Linked DNA regions of Homo sapiens: region 1 is linked to region 2. A link means that fine-mapping ties the variant in region 2 to the expression of a gene that starts in the linked region. Tissue or cell type: whole blood. Region 2 holds a variant in brackets; the other region holds the start of a gene. All regions are shown on one strand. Distances are from middle to middle.

Evidence for each region. PIP is the estimated chance that this variant, and not a neighbour inherited with it, causes the effect.
Region 1: it holds the start of DCHS1, and the variant in region 2 is fine-mapped to the expression of DCHS1 in whole blood (TOPMed, PIP above 0.99).

What each region holds. Positions count from the first base shown.
Region 1 is chr11:6,653,985-6,657,984 of GRCh38, forward strand. DCHS1 (dachsous cadherin-related 1) reads right to left here and starts at 1,825. Exons shown (of 21, transcript NM_003737.4): 1 at 1,579-1,825.
Region 2 is chr11:6,632,343-6,636,342 of GRCh38, forward strand. DCHS1 (dachsous cadherin-related 1) reads right to left here. Exons shown (of 21, transcript NM_003737.4): 3 at 1,776-1,964; 4 at 1,447-1,678; 5 at 1,070-1,306; 6 at 1-714. Among named protein-coding and RNA genes, the nearest start is that of TPP1, 15 kb to the left of the region's middle. The variant G/A (reference allele first, on the strand shown) is at 1,860.

The DNA.
Region 1 (4,000 bases), 22 kb after region 2:
GAGGGAGGAAGGTAACAGGAGCTAAGGAGGTCAAGAATCTGTGAAGCTGTGGTGTTGAAGGACACTGAGAAACCATGGCAGGATACACTATCCAGATCTCGAAGTTTTCAGGGAACAAGAGGGTATACCTGGGAGATCTACGTATGAGAAGGGGTGAAGGTGTGAGCTTGATAAGTTAAGCAGAGTTTATTCAGAAGTTGGGACAGGTCTTCCTGTGGTGTGCATGCCATCCATGACTGTCTCCTGGGGGTTGTACAAGTGGCTGTGTGGTAAGGGCAACTGTGGCACAGCCTCCTGTTAGTGACAGGCTTCTAGGACACCCACTATGTATGGGCAGCTCCAAGGAAGTAAACCTAATAAGATGTGCTGTGACAGTTGTGACAGTGCTTCTGATGGATGTGGATTGCAGTGACAATGTCTCCTGAGAGGTGCTGGTCTACTTGTTTGTTGCTGGTGACAGTGTTTCTGGAGAGTGTTAGCAGTAACAATGTCTTCCATGGTATGTGTTGGCCTTGACAATGAACCGGTGGGAGTATGTTGGTTGCAGCATTTCTCCTGTGGGTGTGTGTTGTCATGAGAGCATTTTCCGTAGGTGTGTGTTGGCTTGATAGAGTCTGCTGTAGGTGTGTGTTGGTTCTGACTGGGGGTGCTTCCTGGGGGTGGGCTTCCTGGAAGTGTATGATGGCTGTGAGGGTATCTCTTGAGGATGTGTGTTCCCTGGGACTGTGTCCTCTTGTGGGTTGAGTAGGGCTATGACTGTGTCCCTATGGGTATTTGAGAAGTTGACATAAGCGACAATATTTTTCTGGCCTATGACCTTGTGGCTGTGGGCCCAGCCCGCCACACTGAGTTCATTGTGCTTCTAGACCTCCCTCTCCCCACCCCCTCCACGTGGGACCCACGCCTGCGGTGACCTTGCTCTGTCCCCTGCACGGGATTCTGAGCTGGGTATCCCAGACACAAACTCCCAGTTGCTCCAATCTCCCACTCAGAACACGTCTGGGTGACCCCCCCCTCCATCCACTTCAGGCTGTGCCTGCCTCTCCTCTGCTTCTCTGTACTTCTCCCCACTCAGTTTCTTTGTCTCTGTCTCAGTTGGTCTCTGTCACACACCCATCCTCCACATTCTGACACATGGGCTCCCACAGAGCGGGCAACACACCCTCACAGGGACTCGCTCACCATGACACACGGTCATTCTGACCCTCACACCCTCAGAGTGACACGCACATGCACACACAGCCAGAGAGACGCCCAGGGACACACAACCTCCCAGTGACACGCACTGACACACTCCGACGATGCACTGGAACACAACGCTGTCGCACCCCACACCCCCGGCGCACGCTCCCGCCGCCACCCTCCCCGACTCGATGACACACGCACACAAAGACCCCCAGGCCCTGCCCCCACGCTCACGTTCACGCCCGCCCGGGTCCCGCAGGCCCAGGCCCCCCCTCCCCCATTGTCTCCGGCTCAGAACAAAGCCCCCGGCTCCGCCGCCGCTGCCGCAGCCCAGGGGAGGCCGGCGGGCAGGGCGGGCGCGGCCAGACGGGCCGGGCGGGCGCGGGCACTGACCTCCGCGCGACGCGGGCTCCCTCGCCCGGTGCTGGGGCGCCGTCCGGCCGCGGTCAGCCCCCCGGGCAGCGCCCGCTCGCGCGGGGCCTGAGGCCGCGCATCGTCCGCAGTCGCTGTCTCCGAGGCCCGCGATCCCCTCCGGGCAGCCGCCGTCGGTCCGCGCGCCCTTGGCCGTCGATCGGTCCGTCCGCTGACGCCCGGGCGCCGCCTCCTGCACAGCCGCCCCGCCGAGGATGCGAGCTCCGCTGCCGCGGCCCCGCGCCCCCTCCCCTCCCCTCCCCCCGCCCTCCGCGCGGTAACCCGAGCCCCCGCCCCTCCGCCCGCGGAGCCCCCGCCCCCGCCCCCACCCGCGCTCCGCGCCGCCGCCCCCCCTTCCCCCCGGCGCCCGCCCGGCCTCCCTCCGCCCCTCCACTTCCCGGCCCCAGGCCCCGGCTCCGGATCCGGCCCCAGCGCCGCGCCGCGCCCCCGTCCCGGTTCCCTTCCCTTCTCCCCGTCACTTCTCCCGTCCTCTCCTCCCATTCGGTTCTCTACGCCCTCTCGTCTCTTCCCCTTCTCGCCGCTCCCTGCTGCTCACCTCCTCCTCTTCCATCTTCTTTCCATCCCCTATTCCCCTCTTCTCCCTCAGTGCCCTGGTCTCCCTCTCGCCCCTTCTTTTTCCCAACCGTCATCTCCATTCCCCTCTGCCTTTCTCCCATCCTCTTCTTCTCGCCCCATCTCCATCATTTTCTCCCCAGCTCTTCTCCCCTTTCTCTTCTCCTTACCCCTTCTGCTTGATCTCTCTCCAGCCTCTTTACATCAGATTCTCCTTCCCCACCTCTCCTTTTATCCTTTTCTTCCTATCCCTTTCTCCCCGTCTCTTCTCCCCACCTTTCTCCCCATCCCCTTCTCCCTGTGTCTTTCGCCTCACCTCATCATCCCCTTTTCCTCACGCCTTCTCCTCATTCCCTTTTCTCACCCCTGCCCTTTTCACTACCCGCTGTCTCTTCCCCTTCTTCCATCGTAACCTCGGCCTTCTCCCCTGTTAGTCACTTTTCATTATCCCATGATTTCTGTCTCTTTTCTCTCCTTCACCCCCAGGCTCCCTTTCCCCCACTTTCTCTTTATCCCAAATTTGAGGGTAGAGATCGGGAGATATTGGAAAGAAGAGCTTTGGGGATGGTGGTCCCACTCACGATATACTCCCTAGAAAAATTAAGTGAGGAGGAAACCGGGCAGGGAAGTGGGAAGGGGCTCAAAAAACCAACTTGGGAGAGAATATGGGGAGAGGGGAAATCAGACAGAGACAAAGAGCAAGCAATCTTAAAGGAACTGGGAAGAGTTCTGACTCCTGTCCTTCTTCCTTAGGACTGCGAGTAGACTGTGAGAAAAACAGGTTTTCTGGACTTGAGATGTGTACAAATGGCACAAAGAAATCAGGAACTTCTGTGGAGAAGGAACACAGTTTCAGCTGAAGAAGAAGGGAGTGTGATTTTGGAAGAGGAGTGAGGGAGAGACTGGGGTCCTTGATCATATCCACGGCGCTTGGGCAGCTGGGTGGATGGATGGTGGTGAGGCTGGCTGTGCTCCACAAAAGGAGCAGCAGGAGGCTGCAGGGGGTTCGTATGAGGAGATGATGACTGTGACTTGGGGCTGCTGACTTTGAAGTGCTGGTTGGGTAGGTAGGTCTGCAACTTAGAGGAGCGGTCTGGGATGGACATAAATATTTGGGAGTCATCTGCAAATGCCGTATAAGCTTGAATATAGGGTGAAGTTTTTGCTTTTTTGTTTTTCCAAAATCATCCCTCAGGAAAGAGGGAGTAACCTTATATTTGAGTCCTTACAAGGTCTCTCATATTACAGGGTTTGCTCTCATTTACTTTATTTTGAACAACAAACCACTGGATAGGGCAGTATGGTATGGTGACTAAGCTTGTGGACTCTGGAGCCAGACTCCCTGGCTCGGGGTCCAGACTCTCCTATTTACAAGCTGTGTGGCACTGGGAAAGTTACTTAACTTGTCTCTGCCTCAGTTTTCTCATCTATAAAGTGGGCCTAAGGATTAAATTATGTAATATATATAAAGCACTATATACCTGGCACTATATGGTAAGTGTCCAATAAATGCTAACTATTTTTACTGTTTGGCTAAGACCCATTGACCTGAAATGTCCTCAACAATGCTATTTTGGATGTATTGTAGTCAAAGAAATTTAACACAGCTTTGGTAACTATTCCTGGTAGTATGACCTCATAATCGCATGTGTTGGATGTCTCAAAATATGCTTTTTAAAGATTGCTTTAAAAAGCAATACAGTAGTACTTGGAAGAGGTTTCTGGGCTGCCGAAAATGTTCTATTTCTTGACCTGAGTGGTTATATGGACCTGAGGGATGTTTCACTCTGACAGTTCATTGAGCTGAATATTTATGATGGCTTGTGGCCTT
Region 2 (4,000 bases):
GCACCCATAGCCACCCACTCTGTGGCTCCAGGCCAAAGGGGCTACTTGCTCCCTCTGCTGCAAGGTGATAGGTGATAGGGCCCCCATCTGGTGCTTGGGCCTGCACTTGCAGGACCTGAGTTCCAGCAGTGGTGCCTGAGGGCAGGTCCACACGGTAGGTAGGGCTGTTGAATCGGGGAGCCAGCCCACGGGTTCCCACATCCTGTACCACCACCCGTAGTCGAAAGTGGCTGGTGCGTGGTGGGGAGCCCCCATCCCGGGCCTCCAGCTCCAGCTCATGGGCTGGCCCTCCTGAGGGCCCCAGAGGCCTCATAAGCCGTACATGGCCTGTGGTGGGGTCCACGGTGAAGGCTCCACCACCCCCAGCAAGCAGGGTAAAGGTGACTCGACTGTTAACACCTGAGTCGGGGTCAAGAGCCCGCAGTGTATAGATGGGAGTCCCTGGGGCAGTGTTTGGTGGTAGCAATACCGTGTCTTCAGGTGCAGGAAAGGCAGGGGAGTTGTCATTCACATCATCCAGCAGCACACGCACCCGAGCTACAGCGAAAGCTGGGGGCACTCCACTGCCTGCTCGCACCTCCAGCTCCAACACTGGTCCCAGTAGCTCCCGGTCCAGAGGGCGAAGTGTTTGCAACAGTCCTGATACCGCATCTAGGGAGAAGAGTCCTCGGGGATCCCCACCTGATAGGGAAAGGGTCACAGGTGCCAAGCGACCTAGGGAGGATGAAAAAGGGATCAGGAAAGAGATGGAGGGGCACTTATTGAGTCAGGACCCAGAGTCTGATCCCGAGAAGGACTGGGCAGTGCCCACACCCATGCCTTTCAAAATATTAGGAGGAGGGGCAGGGGTTGGCAAAGAAGTTGGTTGGCACGCACTGAGGTGACATTCCTATGCCTCATGAAGCAGTGTGCCTGCACTGTGCCTAAGGAGGTGTTGGGCATTGGTACAGGAGTGTTTTATACTGGGGCTATCTGCCCTGTGATACTCTAAGGTATCTTCGGATGGTGCTGGAGGGTTATACTGGGGTATTTGGGTCTGACACCAAGTGGGTATAAAGCTAAATGATACCTGGTGGGTTGTGTGCCTGGACTATGCCCACACTGGTGCCTGGTGCCACATCCTCTGGCACAGAAAAAACATACTGTAGTTGCTCAAATATGGGTGGTGTGGGGGTTCCAGGCACAATGCTGATGTCCACTCGGGCACTGGGTTCTGCCTGTAGGCCACCTCCGTCCTCAGCCCCGATCTCCAGCTGCACCACAGAATTGGCCCGTCTGGCCAAGGGCCAGGCTACTGTCAACAGCCCTGAGAGGAAGAATAGAAGCAGAGATATATAAGGAAACATAATAGGGCTAGAAAGGTTATGGAGGAGGTGGGTAGGACATCATTTAGGCAGGTGGGGAGGGGGACCTGGGGGAAGGCCCCGGGAATGGGAGGATCCTCACCTGATTGCTCATCCAAGGTAAAAAGTGGGGGGCTGTTGCCAGCCAGGATATGGTAGGAGAGTCGCCCATGGGATCCCTGGTCAGGGTCATGGGCACGCAACCTCAGCACAGCTGTGCCTGGTGGACTCTGGGCACTTATACTGGCAGCATACTCCCGTGGATAAAACTGAGGAGGGTTGTCATTCTCGTCTGACAGAAACACCTTCACATATACCATGGACTTGAGGCCTCCCTGGTGGGACATGCAGCCATAGGTCAGGTGGGCCTCATCTGGCCCTGGTGAGTGCCCTACCCCAACATCCCAACCTGCCCTTGGTCTACTGACTTACCCCATCCACAGCTGTCACTGTGAAGTCAAAGCTTGAGGGCCCCTGGTCACGGTCCAGGGTCCGGGTTGTGCACACATCACCGCT[G/A]TGGGCATCAATGCGGAATGGGGGAGATCCGGAGGACCCAAGTCCAGCACCCAAGGAATAGGAGAGGAGGCCAAATGGGCCACTATCCGCGTCTGTGGCTGTCACCTAGGGAGAGGCTGGGGTGAGTGGTGTCCCCTCTTCTTTGCCAGAAAAGCCAGAGGTAGGTGGCCATTAGAATGAACAACTGGTGCTAAGTCTCTGGATGGCGGACACACAGAGAGGACTAGTAGGACATGGGCCCAAACCCAACCTCAGCCTGTACCTCACCATTTAGTTAGGTTCCTAAGTGCCTCTAGCCATAACATTTTTTGTCAGCTGGTCAATACATAACCTTGTTTGATGTGTGTTTCTGTTTAAAGACATCTTATGTTTAATATACATTGTTCATTCATTAACATTGAACTCACAGCCAACAGCACTGTAACTCATGCCTGAATAAAGCTTATCTAACATATGTATTTTCTCCATACAACACATCACAGCCTTCTTGTACTGAGGAACATTAGACCACACTTCAGCACTACACTTGGGGACCATTTAAACAGTGAAATCATCAGCTTTTTGCACTAAAAAAATGAAAAAAAAAAGTTGCAGTAAATAGACCTGAAAGGGACATTTGTTTACAAGCATGAGAGCCCAAATGAGAAGGCAGAACATCGTCTTGTTCACCCTGTGCTGGGAATGTGAACATTAGGTAACTCAAATTTTTCATCTCTCTGCCCATGTCCAGGAATGCTAGTATTGATTTTGGAGTTACAAATAAATTTTCGAGATTAAGTGAATTCACAAATAATGAGGACCAACTGTACTTAGAAAGAAGAAAGGGCTGTGACCTCAAATTCCAGGTGGGTCCAGGAAGTTAATACCCTCACCAAGTCTCATAATCACCCCAAACCAAGAACTCACCGACAGTGGAATTATTGAGACTGATTTATAGGTTTGATCTTTATTGAGTTTGATTATTACAGAGTGGGATCTGATTAATACTGGGATCTGATCACTATAGGGTCTGTTCTATAGATTTATGGGTGTGTGGCTCATGCATCGTTAGCCTAGTACAGTGCAAGGTACATAGTAGGTGCTTTATGTGTATTTTTTCACCGAGTAAATCGACGGTCTGATCATCCTGCTTTGTAACAAAACCTTCTTTCACACTAAGTTTTATACATTGGGTACACATTAGGCCCTCAATAGTGGGTTAGCTGGTGCTGACAACTGTAGCCTGTGACAAAGCGCTCTTTGTGGATATAAGGACCTCAGGGTCAGGATATGCTGCAAGAGGAAGCTGGAGAGTTCCCCTTTCTCAGCCAGAAAATGTGCTTAGAGAGAAAGCTGGCCAAGGACTTCTGATTGTGGCCCAGACCCTTGACAGAAATGATCTGTGCCATTGTTTACCCTCCTGAGAGACACCAAGACCCTGCCATGGCTGAACCCTGGAAACAGCTTCTGCTCCAACTCTCTACTGTGGCTGTGGGCCCGGATATCCCAGGAGACAGACTTCCCCTACATCAATCCTGGCAGGCAGCAGCACAGCTGCGGCACCATCTCCAGAAGCTGTTAACGACCTTTGCCCTCTGACTCGCTGCAGGAAGAAAGCAATAAACAGTGGTCTGGGGAAGTTGTCAGGAAGTGACCCCAAAAGGCACAGGGGCCACTGACTGGAAATGAGCAAGGCAGAAGTGAATTTCCTGGCCTGTACAACCCCTGCTCAGAGGTTTCACTGCAAATACAGTCTCCATTTTCAGCAGATTCTCAGCTCAGCGTCTCAGTCCGACCTTGGTCGGCTCCCTCTCCCATTCTGCCCCAAAGCCATAATAAACTTCATCCCTCTTCTCTTGCCCCCATCCCATCCCTTGCTCTCATCAGATGCACTATTTCAAGGAGAAAAGAAAGACACTTATCTGTGAACTCTCTAAACTTCTTACTAGCCTCGAAACTTACTCCATATGCCTATCCCAACCTCTTTTCCAGGTGTACCTCCTGCTTTGACTTTTCAAAACATAAATTATTTATTTATTTAATTTATTTTTGAGACAGGCTCTCTGTTGCCCAGTCTGGGGTGCAGTGGTGTGATCCTAGCTCACTGCAACTTCGAACTCCTGGGCTCAAGCAATCCTCCTGCCTTAGCCTCCGGAACAACT